Homo sapiens: one gene and its partners. The protein of the gene in region 6 interacts with the protein of the main gene of each other region in a pairwise test. Each region holds a gene or a part of one and is shown on either strand. Other genes may lie near its edges.

Region 1 (2,884 bases), on a different chromosome or scaffold from region 6:
AGAGCCAGCTCAGTCAGTGTTACTGTCTCTTCTGGGCTCCCTGACTTGTATTTAGAGCGCAATACCAAGTTGCAGATCCAACTGCTGGATGACAAAGTTTTGGGAGTTCCTGCCCTCCAACCGGACGCACAAAACAGCATCATCTCTAATCAAATTGGTTCAGTGTAAATGGAGGGTTTATAAAATAGAACGCAATCTCAGGCAAAGTCTCTGTTCTTCCACGTATCTGCCTTCATCAAGTGACTCATGAGACAATCACAGGATCGGCAGGAGTGAGACCTAGGAAAGATATTCAAGTAAAACATGTTTCTTAACTAGTTCTGTTTCTGGTGATTGGAATTTGCTTGATTTTACTTACTAATAAAATTTTTGCTGCTTATATTTTAAGTACATCTGAAAAACCTGATTATGAAGTTAGAATCCGTATTATCTCCTCGAATACTCTTAGAAAGCAATGTCTCTCTATAAAAACATGAGGAGAAAAAGACTTCTACAGCATCTTTTTATTGTCTTTACCATTACTTTAATGCATTTTAAAATTTATCTACATTAATTGGGAACAAAGAAAAATAGACATTTCTTTGTTTTTCATAAATAACTAATCTTCATATTTGATAAAAATCTCAAATGATTATTTTACCTTCCCACAAATATAATACATACAAAATTTTTCTGAAGTAAGGTCAACAAATTAAGTATCTTGAGACTAACATAACCACATACAACTGCTGTTTCTACTGACTCCCAGGAACGAAGCAGAAACAAAAACTCATCAAGCTGCTCTGGGTTTCCTTTTGTAAGTGTTACAGATTCAGAACTGTAATCATGTATCATCTGCCAGTAATAACATATGGATTCAAATTGATTGTCTACAAATAAAGTATCGCTGGCTCTAGTGTAACTTCTGGATTTAACATAACAGTGACTACAGCATGGGATAGGCACTATACATATATGGAAATCATAAACAGTATCGAATGCCCTGGACTTCAACTACTGACTCGGTATGTGCCTCATTTGGCTCAGTAATAAATTCACCTGCACCAAACCCGTATCAAAAGTCACCAAATCTCTCATATATATATATAATATATATTATGTATATATACAACCCACAAAACATACATACTATACATAGTTTGTAACAACATGAAGTCATACTGTCTTAAAATGATGCACTCACAGACAGACACTATCCTGGCTGAAATAAATCCTATTGTCATCAGGCTGCTAGCTTTTGAGAGTCTTGACTCAGGTTAGCTACTTATATTCTGCCTACTCTTCACCCTTCTTTAACGTCTTGGCAGTTCTTTCAGAACCACCCTCCGCAATCCAGACAGATTTGTTTCCCAGGATCACTTGATTGGACTTTGGAAACAAGAAAGAGCATGCAGAGGGAGCAGGCAATTCTTAGCCACTGTCCCTCACACCTGCCTATACGTGTGATGTGCTCTGTCCTGTTGGCCACATTTAGTGTTAGAAAGCAGTTATTCAAAGCTCTGTCCCTCCTACCCCCCTTGGGCTTTCTGTAGAGCACAAAAGTGAAAGAAGCTTCTTTGGCTGGGGTAGCAGTTCATTAAAATATACAACTACATTTCCTAGCTCTGGGGTTCCCATTCTGTACTGGAGAGTGCAGGTCACGGATGCTGTTATTAAGGTTTGGTGTGTGATCCATGAGGTTTTCTCCTGGCAGCCGGTGTCAGGATTAGCGCAGCTCCAGCCCAGGAGGCAACAGCCTAATGAATACCAACTTTGAAACAGTGCTGTCGGCACGTTATTTAAGCTTGTACATGCCCACAATTACACACAACACACACATGGGCCTTGGTCACTGGCAATGGTCATGAGAAAATATGAGAAAGGTTTGCAAGGAAAACCAATAAGGCACCAAGAAAAATTATTTCCAGTCAATTTTACCATTTCAAAATGTGAGAAGGAAAATCATAGAAATTAAAAAGATTTCCTAAAATCTGGTCAGCTAATTCACTGAGAGGTCCCATTAGTTCCTTTAGACAACCTACCTGAATGGAATCCTTACCCCCTAAGCTATGAAGTGAGGCATTGCTTAAAATCAAACTGAAAGGGACAGCCCTGAAGCTGTACACATAAGAGACTCCAATGGGCCCTAAGTCCTCCCCAGCTCCACAAAGCTGGCTGTGAAGAAGTTGCTGAACTACTCCATAACCTTTTATTTTACAGTTGCTTTCATGAGCATGACTTGTTTCCATAATCACATGCAAATTGGGGGAAGTAACTATATGGATGGAAACAGGGGGTGGCTGTAAGTAGATCCAGTTTCTCTCCCCTGGGGTGGCTGATCTCAGTAAGACTTAGGGATGCAGGTGGGCTTTTATCTTTGTCTCTCTTAGGGGATGAGGGAAGAGAGGGACAGCAGAGGTGAGAACAGAGACAAAGAAGTGCTTCTGAAAGTTGGTCTGGAATTAGACCCCAAAGATCCTGACTAATATTGCCCCCCACTTGGGCTTAGCGTCCTTTGTTTTAACTGGCTTATTTTTAAAGTAAATTAGTTGTTCAGCATGTTGCTAAAACAAAACAAAAAAAAATTCTAAAAATGAATTAAATCACTTTCATCCACTTCATCCCACAACTTTTGGATACACTGTGCATCATTTCCAGATTTCTCCACAAAGAAGGAGGGACAACCCAAATGAGGCACAATGACTGAAGGCAGCAGAGCAGTCTGTCTACTTTCTGGGAAGACATATGAAATGAGGGAAAAGGTCAAGGTGATCAGAAAAGGTTCTCTCATTTGAAAAACAGGAGAGGAATTGGCATTCAGTCAAGGGATCTATTTCAAGATTCTAGGAAGAGGCTTCTTCCTAGAAGAATAAATAGAGGAATAAAATAGGCACAAAGTTCTGTA
Region 2 (3,500 bases), on a different chromosome or scaffold from region 6:
AAAAGAAAAGAATGATGGCTGGACGCGGTGTCTCACGCCTGTAATCCCAGCACTTTGGGAGACCAAGGTAGGTGGATCACTTGAGGTCAGGAGTTCAAGGCCAACCTGGCCAACATAGTGAAACCTTGTCTCTACTAAAAAATAAAAAAATTAGCTGGGTGTGATCATGTGTGCCTTAGTCCCAGCTACTCAGGAGGCTGGCACATGAGAATCGCTTGAACCTGGGAGGTGAAGTTGCAGTGAGCCAAGGTTGCGCCACTGCCCTCCAGACTGGGTGACAGAGCGAGACGCTGTCTCAAAAAAAAACAAAAAACAAAAAAAAAAACCAGAATGACTGTGTCCACATTCTGCTTCTAGCTACCCAGACAGAAATAGAACAGAAATGTGCCCTCCACCCCAAAGCTGAGAAGGCCTGCTGGGGAGAAAGGAATGAGGGCAGCTGTCTTGGACTCAGCCGAAGAAGGCCCCAAAGAGAGATGTCCCTTTTACTTGTTCAATACTTGCTGATTCTGCACCCAGCCCCACGTTGGGCAGTGCTGGGGACATGGAAGTGATCTAGGCAGCCCCAGCCTTATTATCACAAGGCTCACAGTCCCATACAGGAGTCCCAATGAGGCCCCAGAATGGGCTGGGATGGGGAAGCCCAGCAGGTGTGAGAACCCAGAGAGGGTGCTTAACCAAGCCTGAGTGCTCTGTGAGTCAGGGAGGGCTTCCTGGAGGAGGTTGGATTTGAGCCTAGGGCTGCGAGAGTCCACAGCCGTAGAGCCTGAGTCTGAATCTCTCATGCGATGTGGCCTTGGGTAAATCACTTTCCTTCTCTCTCAGTTTCCTCACATGTTAAATGAGAATAATAACAGTTCCTGCTTCACAGGGTTGCCGGGAAATTTCCATGAGTCAGCCTAGCTTAGTACCCTGCACTTAGCTCAATCAACATTAACTAATATTATTTTGAAACGGGGCTGCCTGATAAACTGGTGATAGGCAAACATCCCCAAGGACAATTACTAATCTTTCACCAGTTTAAAGTGGAGGACTGCACAACCTTAGAGGTAGCTGGGAGGGTCCCAGGCCAATTCCACCCCTATCTACCTTTTTCAGGTAGGGGAAAGTGAAGCCCAGAGATCTCAGGGACTGGCTTGTGGTCACAGACCATGTGAGCCCAGGGAAGGGCCAAGCCTGGAGCCCAAACTCCACATGCTCTCAGCAAGGAGCGGACTGGAGGAAAAGGTCCTTCAGTGCCAGTCAAGCAGCCATGGGGCCAGAAACCGAGAGCTGCCCCCACCTGTGGGATATCGAGCTCAGCAAAGTGCTCGTAGCAGCCGTCTGAGTTCTCGCCGCTAGTCCAGTCGCCATACACAAGATCGTGCTGTTCCCAGAAGAGTGCCGACGTGGCGTTGAAGTCTGTAAAGTGCTCGTGCTCTGAGATGTACACATGCAGGTTCTGTTGGGACAGGAAGGGAACAGAGCTCAGGCCTGCTCTTCAGAGCCTCTGCAGGCTGGCTAAAGAGCTATGGCAGCGGTCAGCACACTCAGGGGAACAGTAATTATGGAGGACAGGGGAGAGGAGAGAGGAAGAGCAGCAGAGAGGACATATTTTCTCTTTTCTCATACCACCATGTTTGTCCTGGTCTGAGCCTGTGAAGTCAACGAACAAAGAACACTTGGAGACTGGCCAGCCTGCCAATTAGAATTTAGGGGTAGGAAGGGGCAGGAGCTCCCTGAATGATCTCCTGCCCTCATGGCTGCTGGGCCTTCCTGGTCAGAGCTCTGCAGGCTTATGGACGAAGCAGTCCAGAGCTACAAAAGCACTGTGAGCCACCGGGCACGGTGGCTCATGCCTGTGATCCCAGCACGTTGGGAGGCCAAGGCGGGTAGACCACTTGAGGTCAGGAGTTCGAGACCAGCGTACCAAAAAGGTAAAACCCCATCTCTACTAAAAATACAAAAAATTAGCTGGACGTGGTGGCACATGCCTGTAATCCCAGCTAGTCGTGAGGCTGAGGCAGGAGGATCACTGGAGCCCGGGAGGCAGAGGTTGCAGTGAGCTAAGATTATGCCACTGCACTCTAGCCTGGGCGACAGAGTGAGACTCCATCTCAAAAAAAAAAAAAAAAAAAACCCACTGTGACCCAACAAGAACTTCCTCCTTTCTCAAGCCCCAATGGCCATGTTTGCTCAGAAAAGCCTAGACTGACAGATCTAAATGCTTTTGCTCTGGAGGCTCCTGAAGCCCTGCCCTGCCTGTGCCCAAGCCCACTGTGGAAGTGCAGGTCTCCTCTCCTTCCGGGCCCACCTCCTGTCAGCCTCTGCTGGCTCCCTGCCCTCCCCACCTCTCACACTCTCTCCCTTGCACATCTCCCTCTGCAACCCTGAAAGGCTGAACATACTTTTGAAATATAACATCCAAAGACCCTGATTTAACCTATTTTAACCAAATGAATTTGCTTTTTCTTTTGGGTGACACAGGTTTTATGTGCTGGGGATGGACCCAGGTGACAGAGGTCTCACGTGTTGGGGATGGGCCCAGAGTTCCTCAACCCTGGACCTGTTTTCCTAGACCTGCCAGTGAGCAAGGACCTGGTCTGTCCCGACTGCTGACATCACTCCTCCACATTCCACCCCTCCACACCCCATCACCTCCCAAGTCTGCCCTACCACCCGGCAGTTACCATTAAAGTGTCTTTGGGGAACAGGTTGCGGCTGGCGACGCGTGGAGCTCCTCCGGGGCCCGCCTGGTCCTGAGGGGCCGGCCCTCGGCGGAACCAACTGCTGATGGCCCAGATGATGAAGATCCTGAGGAGAGAAGCAGCAAGGTGGTGAGTCCCCAAGCCTTGGCTCTCCGCCATAGACCCGCCTGACTTCCTTCTGACTTAGCACATGCTGGCGCCTGACCTGGGGCTAGTGACCAAGTCAGGGAGGCCCTGAGAAGGTAGTCACAGGGCTGGCAAGGAGATAAGATGTCCCTAAAGACCACATCTGGGGAGGGAGCCCAGATGCCACCGTTTGCCAGTGTGTGGGGGTAGCTGGCACTGCCCTGGTCTGCATGCAGACCCTTGACTCTAAATCCTGCAGGAGCTCCTGGTGACCACAGGGCTGCAGGGGCTGACTCTTGACTCAGACTGGGAAACCTGCCATCCAGCCCCCTGGGATCCCCCGAGAGGAGACTAAGAATCTGGAACCCCTTCAGTGTGCAGATGGATGAATTAAAAGAAAAAAGAAATAAAGAAAAAATAATAAACATAAAATTTTTAAAAGAAAGAATCTGGAATCCTAGCGCTTCAAAAGCACAGAACCGGGGATGGTTAATGGCTACAAAAAATAGAATGAACGAGGACGGGCGCGGCGGCTCATGCCTGTAATCCCAGCACTTTGGGAGGCCAAGGCGGGCGGATCACGAGGTCAGGAGATTGAGACCATCCTGGCTAACATGGTGAAACCCTGTCTCTACTAAAAAATACAAAAAAATTAGCTGGGCATGGTGGCGGGCGCCTGTAGTCCCA
Region 3 (4,200 bases), on a different chromosome or scaffold from region 6:
TCCCAGCAAGCCCCACCTCCCCAGCCGGAGCCCAGCGCACCTGGACACGTCCGGGTCCTGCCGGAAGAGCAGCAGGATGTGCTGGGTGTTGAGGAAGAGCGCCCAGCAAGGGAGGCAGCAGAGGAGCAGGACCAGCGCGCCCCGCTGCAGGATCACGCCCACGTGCTTCTTGTTGGGGCTGCCGAAGCTCTGCAAAACAGCCCGCCCCGCGTCAGCCGTTTCCACTGCCCGGGACATTCCTAAATCCCGCGCGGGGAGCGGGCTGTCAGCGGCGCCAGCGGTGTGTGGCGGACCCGGCGGCCTCTGGTGACCACAGCCTGGCGCCCGCAGCCTGTAATGGCACAGCGGCCTTCCTGAGCCTGGGCCTACCACTGTCTCCACTGTTCTTCCAAAGCTCCAAGGAGGACGAAGGCACATGGGGCTTCATCACATGTCAGCGGCAGGTTAAGTGGAGCCAGGACAAAGCCCAGGTCCACCGTGAAGCTAAAACCCCCAGGGAGAGGTGAGGCCTTGCCGCTTTGTGACCCCATGGCCACCTGGGCAGCCCCTGCTGGACTGCAGGCCCCTGCAAGCAGGGAGGTTCCTTCTGTGTCCCCTTGGCCTTCGACACATGCCTGCATGTAGGCAGCCGAACTTAGGATTGAGGCTGGGGAACCGGTTGTCTTTCTCTACTTGGTGACCTCCTCTGGGGGCAAGAGATCAGAGAACTGTCTCCACCATCTCCACCCCTTTCTCCTGGCCCAGACTCTTTCAAAGGGGAGGGTCTGTTTCCCTGACAGCCTGTGGTCCTTGGAGGTAGGGCAGGGGCAGCTGACCCCAGGGCCCATTGCTCCCAGATCACCTGGCTGCGCCCCTCCCACCTGCCATCTCCATGGCACCTGTGGAATTGGCTCTGCCCTTGCCTGGCTTCCTGCCCAGCTCCAGGAGGCCACCCACCTGAGACATCAAGGTGTCACATGCCGAAGACAAACCAACTCCTACAGAAACTCCGCAGACATTGACAAACTGGCGCCACACACAGGAGGAAACAAGAGCTTGTCAGGTGAGGCCTGAAGAGAGGCCCCTGCATCTGGGCTGAGCCAGGGTCAGGAAATGCTGCCCAGCAGGCAGCGGTGGCAGAGGCTCTGCTCAGCAGCCTCATGTGCTGTGTGCCCCAGGGCCAGACCGCCTCCATCTCCGGCCCTCAGGTTCCACCTGTGAAGGCAGCTGTCCAGCCACGTGGGCTGTGTCTTCCCATCCCTGACCAGCCACCCAAGACGGGCCCACCCGGGAACCCGGTGGAGAAGCCTGGGGAGAGAACGTCCCTGCTCTGGGCCAAGCTGGGTACTCACGGCCACCGCGAGGGTCACCGATGCCAGCTCCACCTTGCCCAGGTGCCCGCAGAACACAGTGCTCACGATGTAGATCATAAAAGTCAGCACCTGGAACAGGAACTGGAGGACAGCGGCCAGGTCAGACTCGGGGCCACAGGTGCCCACACAGCCGAGCCCTGCAAGACAGGCCTCTCCAGCTTTGAGGGCCCCGCACCAGTGCCCCGAGAGGTCACCTACGCCTGGGGAAGCCAGGGCTGGAGGTCGGATGACCTAGCCCAGCTCCCATTCTGCGTTCTGCAGCTGCAGTCACGCCTGGCCTCCACGTCCCTACCCAGAAGGGTCAGTGCCTGGCGCAGCGCAGTGCCTGGCGCCCTGAGCTTGACCCAAGTGTCTGATACTGCTATTGCAGTTCCTATTATAACAATAATTTGGTCAGGCCGCACACCCCCAAAAAAGGAGGGGAATTAAATACACCAAAATCTTAGTAATGGCTATTTCCAAGTACTAGGATTTGAGTTAAATTTCTTTCTTCTTTATATCTTTCATTTTTTTCTAAAAGTTTTACAGGAAGTGCAATTCCATTACTCCTTTTTGGTTTTGTTTTTTTTGTTTTTTTTTTTTTTTTTGAGACGGAGTTTCGCCCTTGTTGCCCAGGCTGGAGTGCAGTGGCGCGATCTCGGCTCACTGCAACCTACCCGTCCCGGGTTCAAGCGATTCTCTGCCTCTCTCTCCCAAGTAGCTGGAATTACAGGCGCCCGCCACCATGCCTGGTTAATTTTTGTATTTTTAGTAGAGTCGGGGGGTTCTCCATGTTGGCCGGGCTGGTCTCCAACTCCTGACCTCAGGTGATCCTCCCTGCTCGGCCTCCCAAAGTGCTGAGATAACAGGCGTGAGGCAGCACGCCCAGCCTATTCCTCTTCATGATCAGAAAAAATAAATGTATTTAAAACAATTTCCCCTTTGGAAATGAAATGGGTAGCCGGCCCCTTCTTCCCCCTGCGAAGGTGCTGCAGGCTTCATGCATCTCTGGGTCCCATTTGTCCTGGAGCCATCTTCCAACTCAGGCTTTTGTGGGTTTCCAGCTGAGGCACACCCACCCCTTCTGTGTGGGGGCTGCCTGCTGCTGAGCAAAGTCAGGCCCCACTGCCACTGGGGATTGTCCAGAGACAGCTTTCAGGAGCCATCCTGCTGTCCCCAGACTCTGGACCTGGCAGTCAACATGGGCAGTTTCTGGGGAAAATGTGAGCACATTTCTGGATCCTGCCTGCAAGGCAGACACCCTCAGCCTCTCAGCTTCCTCCACTCCCTACCTGCCCCCCAGCTCCTCCTCCTTACCAGGGGTCCAGAAAGGGCAAAGAGAGTCCACATCTCAGTCCCAAAGCCTCTGGGAACCAGCCTGCTGAGGGCAGGGCAGCAGCCCCCATGGTCCAGGGCCACTGTGTCCTGGAGGCTGTCCATTCCTGGCCGGGGCACTGGCTACCCTGCACGCCTGAGCGCCTGCACGGCCAGCTTTGTCCAGCGAGCCACCCCCTGCCTGGGCAGCCCGTGTCGGTACAGCCTGGCTGATGAGTAAGGGGCAGGAGGAGGGGCTACCATGGCAACTTGTGGGATGAGCCCTGCCTCCTAGGGCACTGAGTCCCTGCTGCCAAGCCTACTGCCTCAGCCACTAGGGAGGACAGGTTCCTGGGAGTCACCCAGACCGCTGCCTGTTGTGTCTGGTCTCCCAGAGGGATTGGCAGTAAGGCCTCAGCAGGAGAAGGTCCAGGGCTGCCTGCAGTGGCTGTGGGAGGTGTGCTGAGGCCAGGACAGGGCAGCCTGGCTGGGGCAGCTGAGCCACTGGGCGTCCTGTACCCGGGCGTGATGGTGCCCACAGTGACTCCCGTTTTTCAGAAGAATTGGTGGCCTGCCCGAAGTCACAGAGCAGGTGGTGGCAGAGCCTGAACAGCCCTCAGCCCTGCTTTTCCCTGGGAGGGGTGGCTTCCCAAGAGACAGGGGCCTGGCAAACCCCATGGCAGTGCGGTCCCTAGCCTTTCATGCTGGAGGGGCCTGGGCCTGGGCCTGGGGATAGGGATGGGAGCTAGGACACCTCGGCGGAGTCCCAAGCCCCCCACTGCCCGTCACCCCTTTCAGCAGCATATCTGAGAGCCAGGGGTGGCAGTGCTTGGGAAAGCAGCTCACTATGCACGCCAGTCACTGTGCCCAGCAAGGCTGTGACTCGACGTCCCACAGGGTCCTCTGTCACCTTCCCAAATTGCCCTCTCTGCTTTTCCTTGCAGGGATGGCCTGTGACTCCCCCCTCAACCTGCCTCAAGACCAGCAGGGCAGTGGGAACCAAGAGAGGCATCTAAGGATTGCACCGGTCACCTAGCCCAGTCCTGGATCAAGCTTTTGGGTGTGGTTCAGCCCAGGAGAAGGAGGAGTGAGCGAGGGGGGCAGGAAGACAGCAGGCAGGCTGGCCAGTGGCTGTGGGAGGGCTGAAGACATCCCAAAGGCCCCACTTGGTTCCCATGTCCACCCCTGCAGCGGAGGAGTGGCCGGCAGGATTCCGAGATGCAGCCCCCAGAGCCGCGAGGAGGAAGGAGCAGACCCTGAAGGAGAGGAGGCAGGACAAATACAAAAAAAAAAAAAGGGTTTGCTACACCCATGGGCGGCCCCAAACACAGGCACAGCCCCACCCCAGTCAACACGCAGCCTTCTTTTTTGACACAGAATTCTGAAACGCTCCACTGGATCCTCCCAGGATCACCTGGGAGGTCACATTCCTGCCCTTGTTCTGATGGTTCTTATCACAGCACTCTCCAACCTGTGCACCAAATAGTACCTTTACCACCTGCCTAGAGGAAAGAAGACATTTTATCACCATCGTGATTGTGATGATGACACCAAA
Region 4 (3,253 bases), on a different chromosome or scaffold from region 6:
TTGGCCAGGCTGGTCTCGAACTCCTGACCTCAGGTGATCTACCCACCTCGGCCTCCTAAAGTGCTGGGATTACAGGCGTGAGCCACTGAGCCCAGCCAAGGTTCTGTGGTTTTAAAGCTGCCGCTCTGGACAATCTGTCCAGATGCAACCCAGGCATTCCTTCCTTCTGTGTACCTTTTAGGAAGCAGATTTTGGCTCAAAATAAGAAAGACCCTTCTACCAGAACGGCCCACAAACGGACAGGCTTCCACAGAAAGGGGTGAGCCCCTGTTCCGGAGGAGACTCTGGGATTGCTTCTAACTCCGGGATCCTGAGAGCCTCCGTAAAGGGTTTATTGAGCAGGAGAACCAATTTAACCCTGTCCACATGAAAATAAACATGGAGATTTACTTCAAACTCAGCAGCTCTGGTGAGAAGGCTCTCACACAGGTCCGGGTTTGACCCACACAGACTCCACGACCATCTGAGGCAACCAGCACACGGCAGACGAGGGAAACAACTCAGGTGTCACAATTGCTTTTATTTTTATCTCCAGTCAGTCACAGACCCCAGGAAGGTGAGGTCAGGGAAGGGAACAGGTGCGGACACTGGGGAACTTGCAGGAGCTAAGGCCAGTGGACAGCAGGAGTGTCGGGGGTGTGGCAGCTGGCCTGGGTCCCTGGAGCTGTGTCTGCCCTCAGGGACTCAGGAGAACGGCTCAGGGAGGGCTTGGGAGGGGGTACACTGTGTCCGAGAGATGCAACCATCGTTCGGCAAAAGAAAACAGCGGTGGCTGATGAGAAGACAGGTCTGGGGAGGTCTGAGGAGAGCTCGGGCCAGATCCTGCCCCCAACCTCCAGCCACATGGGCCCTCGGTGACTCTCCCAAACCAGGCCCTGCGTTTCCTCAAGCAGCCACTGGAGGGCAGCAAAGTGCTTATGCAAAAATCCCACCCCGCCCAGGAGAGCAGCCAGGACACCTGGGACTTGGCTTCAGGTGGGCCAGGGAAGGAGGCAAGGAGCCTTTTGGAAAATGGGTGTCTGTCCCATCCTGACTCCCTCGGAAGGAAGAGTAGGGAATGGAAGAACTAAGATTCCGGGGCTTCCCCAGGTGATACCGAAGGAGCCATAGGTGTGCCCGGGAATGAGTCCCAGACTCGTGTGTGCCTCCCGGGCCCCCATCTGCAGCTTCCAGAAGAGGACTTCAGTGGGAGACCCCTCAACTCACATTCCGGACAGTCAGATTCCTGGCTGCCTCCAGCTTTACAAAATCCAGCCCACCCCTTCCTGGGCCCAGCCCCACCCAGGCCAAAAATGTGAAGGGCCTGCAGACTCCCTTCCTCCTTTACAGCTTGTGACACCTGCTCAGCTGCGGTTTCCTTAATCTTGCATTCCTGTTCCCCTGCCCTTCCTACTTCTGACGCCTCTCCTGGTGTTTCAGGATTCCTCACTGCCTGGATTGGAGATGGAACGCATAGACTTTGGCCCTGACCCTGCTGCCTACACTGTGGTACCTGCCACCCCCCCTCAGGACCCAGAGTAGGAGGCTGCGGCATCTTCTGCCCGGCTTCCCCAGCTCTGCAAAGAAGCCATTTCTCAAATGGCTGTGATGCGTGTGTGACACTGTTTATTGCCGAGGACCTGTCCCTCCTCCCCCAAGCTTTTGGCACTCAGCCCTGAATAAGCTTCTAAATCCCCAGTTTCTGCAGTAACTTATCCCAGGGAGAGGAGAACTTGGACAAGTAGATTCTAGGAAGCATGACCAAGGCTATCTGACAGTGGCAGGAGAGTGGGGTGCTGGGGCTAACCCTCTGGAACTGAGGCCAGAGATGAGGAGAGGAAACTGAGGGGCCCGGAGGAGAGGAGGTGGAGGAGGGTGGGAACCGGGTGAGAAAGTCAGTGGAGAGAAATGTTCTGGTGCCTCTCCCGCCCTATCCTGGCTATGAACTTCCATGTGGCAGATGGAAAAACTGAATTCCAGACAGCAAGAAACCCTCACCTAATAGCAGGAGCCCGCTGGCAGTGAGGCTAGGAACCAGAAACCAGAAATCTTGCCTCCCAGCTCTTGTCTGGAAGATAGAAACCTCAGAGTGCAAAATCTGGCGAGGGGTTTCAGGAAAGACGGGAGGCCGGGTGGCACTGAGGACAAGAAATCCCCAGGACATCAGGGCCTGACCACCCACCTCTCTGCGCTCTCATGTGGTCTCATTCCGGCCCCCACCCAGGCCCAGGGGCAAGCGTGATACCCTGTTTGCTTGAGGCAGCTGTGGGTCTGAACCCCAGGCCCGCCACTCGCTAGCCGTATGACCTGGGACTCATTACCGAGCCTTTCTGAGCACCTCGGCTTTTCCCTCTGCTACGGACATGAGCAGAGCGCTGTCTCTGGAGGATCACTGCGATGGATTAATTTAGACCAGCACACAGTGGGCATCTCACCCGTGCCCCCAATGCCTTTGCTGCACACACACCACCCGCCAGTTCTTGGCTCCTTTTCTCTTCAAATATCCAAGATGGAACAAAACTTCAAATGCTTCTGCAATGTTTCTTGAAAGCTGGGAGTAGGAAGGGTGGGGAGGGATGGGGCTGGGAAGGAACAGCACACCTCGTCTCCCTTCCCAAGGCAGACGGAGCTCCCAGCACAGGGGAGAGAGAAGAGGAGGAGGGCGAAGCCAAGGGAGGGTCCTGCTAGCCACTCAGAGCCTTCCTGTATCCACACAGTAACTTTCCACTGGCCTGGAGTTGGCCACTGCACATGCTGGCTGCACGCTCCCCCAGTGTGGCCTCCTGGTTCCCTCCCCACAGGCGCCCCTCTGGGGGTTGGAGGGCTGACGCACACCCTGCCTGAGATCCCAGCCGCCTGGAAGCTGATAAGGAGCCCTGGCCTCATTACATGGGACCAGCTGGAGGGACTGGCCCTGGCTGTTAGCATCAGCTGGATGGCTTCCAAATTGGAGAGATGCAGAGATAAGTGGGGGAGCACTTAGGGACTCTGGGCTGAGTGAGTGGCCAGTGAAGCTAGAAGAGATGTGGACTGTGCCAACTATGAAGACCTCAGGAGGCCTGGCTGGGGACGAGCCAGCAAACAGCAGCTGACAGGAAGGGTTTAGGAAATAAGAGGTGCAGAAGGGACTCCCACACAGCCTCGGGTTAGGGCTGAGGCAGAGCAGGGACTCCTTCCAGATGGGGCTGGCCTGGCAGCTACAGCGATTGCCTCCTCCCCCAGAACATCCAGCCGGAGGGCCCAATCACACCTCACTCAGCCTTAGGCCTGTGGC
Region 5 (3,500 bases), on a different chromosome or scaffold from region 6:
CAACAGAGCAAGACTGTCTCAAAAAAAAAAAAAAGTGAAACCATCATATGAAAGTAAATATATATGAAAACTTACAAAACTTGGGAGTGAGGGAAAACCTAAGTATCATACCAACAGCAGAAATCATCAAGATAAACCTGGATATACCTCACTGTATAAATTTCTATAACTTAAAAAGACATCGGAAACAAAACCAAAAGAAACACATCAAACCAGGGGGAAAGAATCTGCAGTAGTCAGAAAACACCAGAAACAAAACCAAAAGTAAAACTGAGGAAAAATCTCCACAGATACAGGAATCTCACTGTTGGCAAAAAGAGCTTTTAGAAATTAACAAAAGATGAATATCTCAAGAGGAAAAAAATGGGCAAAGGACATAAACAGGAATATCCTTACAGAATAGGAATGGTCATAAACAAAAAGTTTAACTCATTAGTAATTAAAAAAGTAACAAAGTCAGAAGAGAAGTGTTTTTCCTTTTAGCTTGGAAGATGAGCAGGCAGTTACTAATTCTGTGCCAGGTACCTGAACAGCAATTCAGTCACAGATGATCAGGTATAACTACAAAGATGGTCACCAATGCAGCTGTCTAACAAGGAAACTGGCTATATATATTATGATACAGTCATTTGGTTGAAAGCAACCATTAGAAATTACATAATATGTAAATATATAAGGTCTTGGAAAGGTATTTTTGACATATTAAGGAAGGTTGCTAAACAGTACGTAGAGTATCAAAGCTTAGCAAAAATAAAAGTAGTAGTATGGTGTCATATAAAACCACAGAAAGACTGACATTTAGATATTAACACTGCCTATCTGTGGGGTGGTTATAATTTTAGGTGATTTTCTTTTTTTGCTCATCTATAGTTTGATAATAAATATGCACTGTTTTTTAACAAGATAGAATAAAAACCTGTTGCTACTAGTCGAGTTTCCTTAACACTCTTCAGCTGTCAGATAAATCCAGATGTGTGCCAGCTGCCCTTTCCCTGTTGGGTGTGCAGTGTAGAAGGGAAAGCCTGCCGTGCCTTAGTAGGGAAGTGACCAAAGGCAAAGTTTCTTGGCTTTGTTTGCTTATCTGTGACATGGGGATGTATTATCCTCCAAATGCTCCTGAAATGGTGAAATACAATCATGTCTGTAAAGTATGGTTTCTGCCACAGCCATAATTGACAGACTATAGAGTTTAGGAAGGTGGTTGTGGAAGGCTGGAGATGTGTGAACTCTCAGTCCATGAAACAGACAGGAAGCACTAATCTATGTGTATAAAGAAAAGCATTTGTGAATATATACCCTCAGTTAGAAAGTAGGAGCCAAGCTTCAAGGAAAAATAATACAATCCTGTAATATTAAGGTCTTATTCTCTACTTTTAGCTTGAATTCTATTAATTCAAAGAATTCTTGAATAGCTTTAATAAAATAGTTTGAATTTGATTTGAATCAATGTGTGGGAACAGGTGGTCAGCAGATTTCTAGAACATCAAGATTTACAATCTTAAACTGAAGAGATCTGTGTACAGATAGAACACTGTTTACATCAGGGTATAGCACAGCACAATATACTGCCTTTACTACTCTACCTAAAGCAGCACGGTAAGATCATTTTATAATATGAAAACTACTGGGCAATTTACATGTACTTATCCTTTTATCCCAGACATCAAAAGCCTCAGAATCCACCTGGCCAATGTCTTAAACAAGTTTTACCAACTACTGAAGGTTCAGTGGGCTGATAGCCTTTCATGGGGCGCTGAATGCCTTACGGCACAACTTCTTCAAGAAACCTTTCAATGGTCTTTGAAGAAGTGTAAATTCCCGTCTCAGGTTTACACTTGACGTTTAGAACATGGGCACCGGCAGCATGCCGCAAACCTAAAGGGAATTCTTTCAGAAAAGAGAGACGAAGTTGTTTTTTTTTTTTTTTTTTTAAAAAAAGTCTAAAAAAAGACTTAAAAAAAAGTCTTGCTCTGTCACCCAGGCTGGAGTGCAGTGACTCGAGTGACTCGATCTCAGCTCACCGCAACCTCCGCCTCCCGGGATCAAGTGGTTCTCCTGCCGCAGCCTCCCAAGTAGCTGCGATTTTTAGTAGAAACGGGGTTTCACCATGTTGGCCAGGCTGGTCTTGAACTCCAGGACTCAGTGATCTGCCTGTTTCAGCCTCTCAAAAGTTTGCTGGGATTACAGGCAAAAGCCACGGTACCCAGCTGATGAAGGTATTCTTTTTATTTTTTGTTGAGACGGCGTCTCGCTCTTGTCCAGATTGGAGTGCAGTGGCACAATCTCGGCTCACTGCAACCTCCATCTCTTGGGTTCAAGCAATTCTCCTGTTTCAGCCTCTCAAGTAGCTAGGATTACAGGTGCCTGCCATCATGCCTGGCTAATTTTTTTTTTGTATTTTTAGTAGAGATAGGGTTTCACCACATTGGCCAGGCTGGTTTCGAACTCCTGACCTCAAGTGATCTGCTCGCCTCGGCCTCCCAAAGTGCTAGGATTACAGGTGTGAGCCACGGCGCCCGGCCGAAGATATTCTTAAGGCCTTATTTTTGTAAAGTGCCCACATCTTGTGCTACTTGAAAGGAATGGTAGTAACGCCTTCCATTTTCTCTCCCTTTCCCCTCTGCCACCATCCCAGCACCTTCGAAGGTGACCTCCAGAAATCAGTTCCTTTGATAGCTCCGAGATGGCATGTGCCGCTCAGTTCTGTAACCAGAGCCTCTGCAGCTGGCAGGCTGGTGGCCTCACTTCCGCTTAGTGCTCATCTTTTCTCACCTTCCAGAATGAAACTCTAGAGTTGGCCTGGTATGGCCTCCTCAGGAAAAGGTACTTCCACATGGGCACTAGCCAGCAACCTCATCCCCTCCCCGCGGCATAACTTTAAGGATGCGCAAAGCTTAGAGGCCTGTGATCTGCAGAACAGATTCTATAATTGGGATTGTTCCGTACTGGTTTGTCTTGAGACAGCAGGAGTGGCCAAGGGGGATCTCAGGGGTAGGTCACAAAGCCAACATATTTGGAAGAAAGATTCTCAGAGCTTGCTGCTGATAATGTCTTTTATGTGCAGAGATTAGTGAAGTCATTCAGTCCTTGTCCTCAAAATACATCCTGTGAACTTTACTCACTGACCTTCACTTGAACCACCCTCCCTTCTCCAGTCCTTTTGAAGTATCTAAGAATGTGTTGTATACATAATACAGCTACAACAAAGATGCCTCTAATTTACCAAGGCAGGCAATCACTTTCAGTGAAGGCACAGCCTGGTTCCTACCAAACCTCCTCTTCCTCCCCTTAACCTCCTCCCTTCCATCCACTCCCACCATTAGCCCAACAGAGTGCACGTGTAAGGAACTCACATTTGGTGAGCAAAGGGACTTCTGACTCCGAATAAGCCTAAATTCAATAGGTCACAGTTTAAGGCTTTTTCGGTGCCAGTTTATTTAAAGAACTAGTTATTTATTTATTTGTCAGATTTATATAGCGCCTTTCCTCCCACGAGCTCA
Region 6 (3,500 bases):
TTTTGGTGTTTTTTTTTTATTTCAATAGGTTTCTGGGAAACAGGTGGTATATGGTTGTATGAATAAGTTCTTCAGTGGTGATTTCTGAGATTTTGGTGCACCCGTCACCTGAGCAGTGTACACTATAGCTCTTGAACATTTTAATTATTTGAGGAAGTGTTTATTCAGGGGTGGATGGGAGATAACTACTGCACTGTGATAAGTTAACAAGTTAAATCAGTTTCCTGCATTCTAGGAATCTTGGCGTCCACATCTGTTCCTCAATGTGTGACATTGGTGGCATCATCACGCCATTCCTGGTCTACCGGCTCACTAACATCTGGCTTGAGCTCCCGCTGATGGTTTTCGGTAAGAAATCTTCACAGATGTCTTTAAGTGAAAACTTATTTTTCTAGAGACCTTCACTTCTCTTCTACTTCATTCAAAACAGGTGTCATGCCTATTAGTAACTACTAATTACTACTCATAGTAGTAATGATGTGTCTGTGGCTTGCGTTCTTCCTGGATGTGCCTAGTAATTAGTAATATTATTAGTATTAGTAATACTAATCAATAATACTAGTTCAGTATTCATAATATTATCATCACTACTAATACTCAAGTATGGGACTCCTGCCATAGAGGCAGAATGTTGAAGAGAAGAATGAGAAGGAAGAAAGTTTCCCAGCAGCAGGCCCCTAACTCTCTCTCTGCTGATTTCCACCCTTCCTGAGGTCTCTGTCAAAGAGTTAACTCCTCCATGCCCAGAGGTGGTAAAACACAAGCCCTTTTACTTCTTACTTCAAAGAAGGGGGTTAAAATTTTGCAAAAGGCAATTTCAAAACCCAGAGGAAATAAAGACCCACATTAAGAAAATGCATCAGCATAATGGAGCACCTGTGTTGATGCACCTGGAGCAATTAGATTTCAGGAGCGTCACATAGCACTTCCCTTCTGCTACTGCCAGCAGGAACACACCAGCACTGAGCCTTCTCTGGTTAACTGGAACACCTCAATGCACCCATTTCAGGCTCCTTTGACACCCATTCTGAGCTGCTTTTAATTGAATATGTGATGCTTTTTCCCATGGGCATATAGCACTCAATTTAGGGGAAGAGAAGAAGAAGAGATTTCACTCTCAGATGTACATGAGGGTGTAAAGGGAAAGGAAATTTAAAAATCTCAGGACCCCCAGAATCCTTATGCAAAAGGGAAGACTAAGCCTGGAGGTTGAGTCATGCAACACCCTCTTCCAGATGAATAGCTGTTACAAGCATTATACATCATGCCTCAGTTATCTACAAAGGACCACCCCTGCAGGTCATTCATAAGTAAATTCTTTGCTGGCCTCCTGTAGACAAGAATTTTAGGTCTACAATCTAAGCTTAGCTTCTAAAACTAAAGTCTGCTGATTCCACACTGATAATGTTGATTGCAAGCTTATTTCCCAATGTACAGAATAAAGACAAGATCAGTCATTCCTCCACCTACTCAGAGAGGCCTGCATAATTGATTCTTTTCTTTACTCCCATTTTCTCTTTAAACATTCACCTTATCATATGTAAAATGTAAATTTAACTGGGCACTAGTTAAAGTCTCACAAGGATGGAAACATTCCTCTACGGCCTACCTGCCCCTCTCCCTACCTGCCTCCCTACTTTAAGGAAATGTATAAATACCAACCTCCTGAAAGCCTCTTTGTAAAAACAGCCACAGATGTGTCTGTGGCTCATTGCTTTTCAGGGACATGCCCTAAAGCTGACTTAATAAACCTCGACTGACTGGGACATTTTCCTCAGTCACTCATTTCCGTTATCAGGGGAAGCTCCCACCACTTCACTCCTAAGGCTGCCCAATGCCCCACACAGCTACCCTGCTCATTCCTTTTCTTCCCCTTCTTCTCACGGAATTTGTGAGGGGGAAAATTTTCCACCACTCTAGATCTGCCAGCAAAAGTTCCAAACCACTGATGGAACTTACCTGCAAAACAGATGCAATGAATTCCTCCATGATCCAGTTTAATAGCAATAAGATGGCCAAAGTTGACAGAGCACAAGCTCTTTATCCTGAGATAACTTGGCCACAGAGTAGCTGGTGCTACTCCTGAGACATATGTGACCCCTATTTCTTTCTCCCCCAACACTGGCTAAGGAAACTGTCCTCAGAACCCTCTTTTCATCATGAGGAGGTACCCATCAAACCCTCTGTCCTCCTTCCTGCCATGGAGGAAGTTAGAGACCACTCAATCTTGGCCACTCCCTTAGGTGGACAGTGGGTGACTAATGGGTCAGCAGGACATTTCTGGATAGCAGATGGTTACTTCGTTACTGGAAAGAGGTCCTGACCCAGACCCCAAGAGGGGGTTCTTGGATCTTGCACAAGAAAGAATTCGAGGTCAATCCATAGAGTAAAAGGAAAGCAAGTTTATTAAGAAAGTAAAGGAATAAAGAATGGCTACTCCATAGGCAGAACAGCAGCATGGGCTGCTCAGTTGAGTAACCTATAGTTACTTCTGGATTATATGCTAAACAAGGAGTGGATTATTCGTGAGTTTTCCAGGAAAGGGATGGGCAGTTCCTGGAACTGAGGGTTCCTCCCCTTTTCAGACTATATAGGGTGACTTCCGGACATCACCATGGCATCTGGCATCTGTAAACTGTCATGGTGCTGGTGGGAGTGTCTTTTAACATGCTAATGCATTATAATTAGTGTATAATGAGTAGTGAGGATGACCAGAGGTCACTTCCATCGCCATCTTGGTTTTGGTGGGTTTGGGCCAGCTTCTTTACCACTTCCTGTTTTATCACCAAGGTCTTTGTGACCCTGTGTCTTTTGCTGACCTCCTATCATCCTGTGACTAAGAATGCCTAACCTCCTGGGAATGCAGCCCAGTAGGTCTCAGCCCCATTTTACCCAGCCCCTGTCCAAGACAGAGTCACTCTGGTTCAAACAACTTTGACAACTTCATGTTTCTCTAAGTACTATTTAACAAATAGTACTTTATTGACCCTTGTTCCTGCCTGACACCTTCCTGCAGGAAAGATAAAGGATTATAACTACATTTCAATATTTAAAGTAAACTCAAAGACAATTCTAATTTTATTCTTGAAAGTAATTTCATATTCTTCCCTCACTAACCTTTAGTATGAGTGGCTAGTGGAAAGAAAACCTAATAGTTTTTCATTTTAACTTCTTTCTCTTTCTTTTCCACACAATAATGGTGTGCTAATTGTGGTCTTGAAATAGCCATAAAACGATAATCAAAGAAGACTGAAAGTCAACACACTGGAAAATCCTGGCTGAAAGAGCACTGGAAAAATCAACAAGGATTATTCTGGTTAACTAGGCCTGTCTTTGCAAATATAAAATGCCAAACGAATGGTAATTTTATTAATCAGTTGTATTCATCATGATTCACTCACTTCAGAGATTCAGATGCCAGCTGAATGTGTTTCTTGTTTGCATTACTTACAATACAATAACCAAGTGAATCTTGGGAGGCTTGGAGACATTTTGAGAGG
Region 7 (3,500 bases), on a different chromosome or scaffold from region 6:
TGGAGCTTCAATTCAGGTCAACCCACTGTGCTGCAGAAGAAATTCTGGGTTTGTGAACCTTGGGAATTTTAACAGATTTTCAATACAAATCATGAACCCCTTTTCAAAAACATAAAAAGTAGGTCCTTTCACTCAGAGAAGGATCCTGACAGTTACAACCATTCCTTGGAAACACAACAGAAACCATTCCCTAGAAGCTATCTCTGCTCATGTGCCAGAATAAACACTGTCCCCACAAATCCTCAATCTCCTGTGACTTGTAAGGTGAAAGGCAGCAAAAAGGTTTAGATTCACAGTGTCAATCTCAGTCACCCCTAAAGATTTAGTCAGCAACGTACCTTAAAAATGATGAATAAGGCAAAGAACACAAGAACAATGAACAGGAGGCAGCTGGAGTCCAAGGCCAGGAGGTCATCTTTGTAGGGAAAATCAGGCTATTAAAGAAACACACACACATTTACAAGTCAGCCATCGCACTAGCACTTGCTGATAACCTGAAGAGCATCTGAAGAATACAAAGGCACCAAAGTCAAAAGTGATATTTAATAAAAATGTATAAGCAGAATTTAATTCAAAGTGCTTTTAAATTTTAAGCCTTATCACCATTAATGCATGCTAACAATCACTTAGAGTACATTTGATAACCCACAATGCTCCAAAAAGTCTAAATTTAGCTCGTTTTCTCTTTACTTTTCACTATTTTCCATCTTTCTGGCCTTTGGAAAAACACTATCGCCTATATGGCACTGGAGATCAGTCCCTGTGTCACTTGCATCATTAACTCAGGAGATGCTCAGTTCTGTGTAAGTTCTACAGATAAACTGGGCCATTTTAATGCTACAAGGGGAAAATTATTTTTCTAAATGTCAATCGTTTGTCTCAACTCTCATCAGACAGGGGCAAAAATACACCCACTGGTTACAATGTCAGGCAAGACATAAGTTTTACTGCAGACATACTCTGTTCTACTGAAAAGCATCAGCTATATTCATTTAAATACTTAATCAGCCCTGACTGTGTACAAGGCAATGAGCTAAGTTCAGGGAGAAAGGTGTTATAAAAGAAGAATTTCAGATTTAAAAACTAACCAACAGAGGAAATACCTTCCAGTCTGAGGCACTAAGTGAACAAAACAGAGGAGAGAAAACACCAGGGTCTCTAAAAGGAATAATAAATTTTTATCTTCTTTTCTATAAAGCTGATTTAATTTTTTTAAGTTATGCTTGTTTTTAATGGAAATGTCAACAAGAAGGCCTAATTACATTTTCATTTAAAAAGCAACATAAACAGAAATCCCAAAGGACTGAAAAAAATAGAAAAAAAAAATTTTAAGAACACACTACTCCCCAAACCCCAGCCAGGTTGTCTCCTTGGGAAAAAAGCTGTTTTTTTGATCTTCATCTATAAACAAAAAGAAAAACACAGAAGGTGGAGCTCATGAGGGAATGCTATGCTAAGGGTTTTACTCAGAAGGCAGGGAGGCACCACTTGAAATTTCTCCCCCGGAGATGACATGAGCAGAGAGCCACACAGAAGCCGCTGACCGTGGCTGACCAGGCCAACAGCCCTGCCCCTGGCCACCTTTCTCCAGGCTTCCCCACCCTCCCTCTGTGTGCCAGCCACCATGGCCAGCTTCTAGTGCCCTCACTATGCTGCTTCTTGCCTCAAGGTCTCTCTTTTATCTGGAACATTGTCTTCTATACTTTCTCTATCTTAATTCCTGTTCAAACTCCTGAGTACAATTCAAATCTCACTTCCCAGCCCAGGTTTAGTACCCATGTGATATCCACTCCCACAGTAACCTACAATGGTGTATCAGTTAACTGTCAACTTCCTGATTCCTTCACCAGGAAGTAAGCTCCACTGATGCATCTCTATGACCTAGCAGAGTGCCTTGCACATAAGAGCAACCAGCGAATGTTTTCTGAATAAATGAATGATGAATTTGGTGGTGTGGAAAATGGGCTAGGCAGGAAATCTGGTAGTGGGAAGAAAAGTTCTGAAAGACAGCACTTTGGAAATGAACTGAGGATACTCCTGCCAATTTTCATCTACCTAGATCCCATATCTCCTTCTGACCACCTCCACGACGCCCTCCTTGGCCACCCAGCCCAGAGTTTTCCCTGCCCCCCTCCATATGACATTAATCGAAGTTCCTTATTTGCTGCTGCTGTGACAGCTCCCGCTTGTTATCACAGGTAACATCTTCATGTATCTTGACTCCCCAAATATTACAGTTTGCTCGCTAAACTGTAATATTCGCAGTTATCTTTATATCCACACCATTCACCAACAGTGCCTAGCAAAGGGCTAAAAACATAGTAGGCACTGGAATACTTGCTACAGATGTCTGTAAAGACAATAAGCTAGTCACTTAAAGAGTGCCATACACAGTCAAATTACTGTACCTTTGGATGCTCAAAAACAAAAGCTGAACTACTAGTTCCATAATATCCATTTCTAGGAACTCTTAATACTGCATTATCCAAATGGATGGTAAGAAATTACTCTACTTTCATCTTGCCAGTTTTGTCACAGTAGCTAAGAGAGCAGAAATAATTATTTTAAGACACTTTCAAAAGCAAGCGGAGTAGTTAAAAATAATACCTAAGGCTGATTCAGAATTTAAATGTAAACATTTTACTCAAAATGAAAAAAAAATAAGTTTAATGAGCATACACACTTACTAGTTGATCCAGATATTCTTTGATTCTTGGCAAATAGGTGAGAGAACTAATAGCAACCAGGCAACTGAGGACGAAGTCAAAAAGTCGGTAACAGAAGAATGGAATCAGCCAACCCACTTGATACTGGAGAAAAAATAACAACCATAACATTGTATCACATATAGGAAATTACTAAGCTCCCCTAAGGTCAAACTCTAAAAGATGAAAATACAGTATACTTACAGAAATTGCTCCATAAACCAGCATTGAACTGATTATAAACATAAGAACAGAGACGGCAAAAAGAACACAGGCATTATCTAAGAAAACAAAAACAAAAATCTAATTAAGCTACTTACACAACAAAAAGAACAAAACTTCACTTAAAGCTAGCTTTAAAATATTAAATTTAAATATTTTCAAAATTGGCTATAAAAAGATCTAAGGCCAAGAGGGTAAAAAAAAAAAAAAAAAATCAAAGTCTCAGCATGAAGTAAGGAACCTTGAGACATTCACACAAAGCACTTATTTGTTAAATCGCTCCAACGACTCACTGACATGGGTGTAGGATGGCACATGAACCACATTCTCTGCTAGAGAAACAGGTCCCTGTGCCCTTATGAGCCCAGGAATCTGAAGATGTGCAAACAGATCATTATAATCCAATGTGTCAAGTGCTACAACAGAGGCAGAAACAATTTGCTTTGCCTGAAGCATCAGGAAAAAATATGAAGAAATGACACAAGATGGGTCTTATGAGTAGGGTTTAGCTGGAAGGAATGGCTGGCAATTGCTTAAAAGACAAGTGTATTAAACTCAGAATGCTACATACAT

What was found.
Region 1: the proteins of SLC22A2 (region 6) and FZD5 interact in a protein complementation assay, tested with the Homo sapiens proteins (one large-scale study listed by BioGRID).
Region 2: the proteins of SLC22A2 (region 6) and CLPTM1 interact in a protein complementation assay, tested with the Homo sapiens proteins (one large-scale study listed by BioGRID).
Region 3: the proteins of SLC22A2 (region 6) and SLC47A2 interact in a protein complementation assay, tested with the Homo sapiens proteins (one large-scale study listed by BioGRID).
Region 4: the proteins of SLC22A2 (region 6) and FAIM2 interact in a protein complementation assay, tested with the Homo sapiens proteins (one large-scale study listed by BioGRID).
Region 5: the proteins of SLC22A2 (region 6) and ETV5 interact in a two-hybrid assay, tested with the Homo sapiens proteins (one large-scale study listed by BioGRID and IntAct).
Region 7: the proteins of SLC22A2 (region 6) and LAPTM4A interact in a protein complementation assay, tested with the Homo sapiens proteins (one large-scale study listed by BioGRID).

Annotation. Positions count from the first base shown.
Region 1 is NC_000002.12:207,762,098-207,764,981, forward strand, and holds the end of FZD5 (frizzled-5 precursor), read right to left. Parts: 3' UTR 501-2,884; downstream 1-500. UniProt on the Homo sapiens protein: Receptor for Wnt proteins. Functions in the canonical Wnt/beta-catenin signaling pathway. In vitro activates WNT2, WNT10B, WNT5A, but not WNT2B or WNT4 signaling. In neurons, activation by WNT7A promotes formation of synapses.
Region 2 is NC_000019.10:44,972,380-44,975,879, reverse strand, and holds part of CLPTM1 (putative lipid scramblase CLPTM1), read right to left. Parts: intron 2,794-3,500; coding exon 2,670-2,793; intron 1,442-2,669; coding exon 1,283-1,441; intron 1-1,282. UniProt on the Homo sapiens protein: Involved in GABAergic but not glutamatergic transmission. Binds and traps GABAA receptors in the endoplasmic reticulum (ER).
Region 3 is NC_000017.11:19,713,785-19,717,984, forward strand, and holds the start of SLC47A2 (multidrug and toxin extrusion protein 2), read right to left. Parts: upstream 2,801-4,200; 5' UTR 2,772-2,800; coding exon 2,649-2,771; intron 1,452-2,648; exon of another isoform or gene 1,434-1,451; coding exon 1,332-1,433; exon of another isoform or gene 1,006-1,331; coding exon 937-1,005; exon of another isoform or gene 562-936; intron 190-561; coding exon 41-189; intron 1-40. UniProt on the Homo sapiens protein: Multidrug efflux pump that functions as a H(+)/organic cation antiporter.
Region 4 is NC_000012.12:49,866,396-49,869,648, forward strand, and holds the end of FAIM2 (protein lifeguard 2), read right to left. Parts: 3' UTR 501-3,253; downstream 1-500. UniProt on the Homo sapiens protein: Antiapoptotic protein which protects cells uniquely from Fas-induced apoptosis. Regulates Fas-mediated apoptosis in neurons by interfering with caspase-8 activation.
Region 5 is NC_000003.12:186,067,590-186,071,089, forward strand, and holds part of ETV5 (ETS translocation variant 5), read right to left. Parts: intron 1-3,500. UniProt on the Homo sapiens protein: Binds to DNA sequences containing the consensus nucleotide core sequence 5'-GGAA.-3'.
Region 6 is NC_000006.12:160,238,322-160,241,821, reverse strand, and holds part of SLC22A2 (solute carrier family 22 member 2), read left to right. Parts: intron 1-235; coding exon 236-348; intron 349-3,500. UniProt on the Homo sapiens protein: Electrogenic voltage-dependent transporter that mediates the transport of a variety of organic cations such as endogenous bioactive amines, cationic drugs and xenobiotics. Functions as a Na(+)-independent, bidirectional uniporter.
Region 7 is NC_000002.12:20,034,629-20,038,128, forward strand, and holds part of LAPTM4A (lysosomal-associated transmembrane protein 4A), read right to left. Parts: intron 2,987-3,500; coding exon 2,910-2,986; intron 2,811-2,909; coding exon 2,688-2,810; intron 435-2,687; coding exon 339-434; intron 1-338. UniProt on the Homo sapiens protein: May function in the transport of nucleosides and/or nucleoside derivatives between the cytosol and the lumen of an intracellular membrane-bound compartment.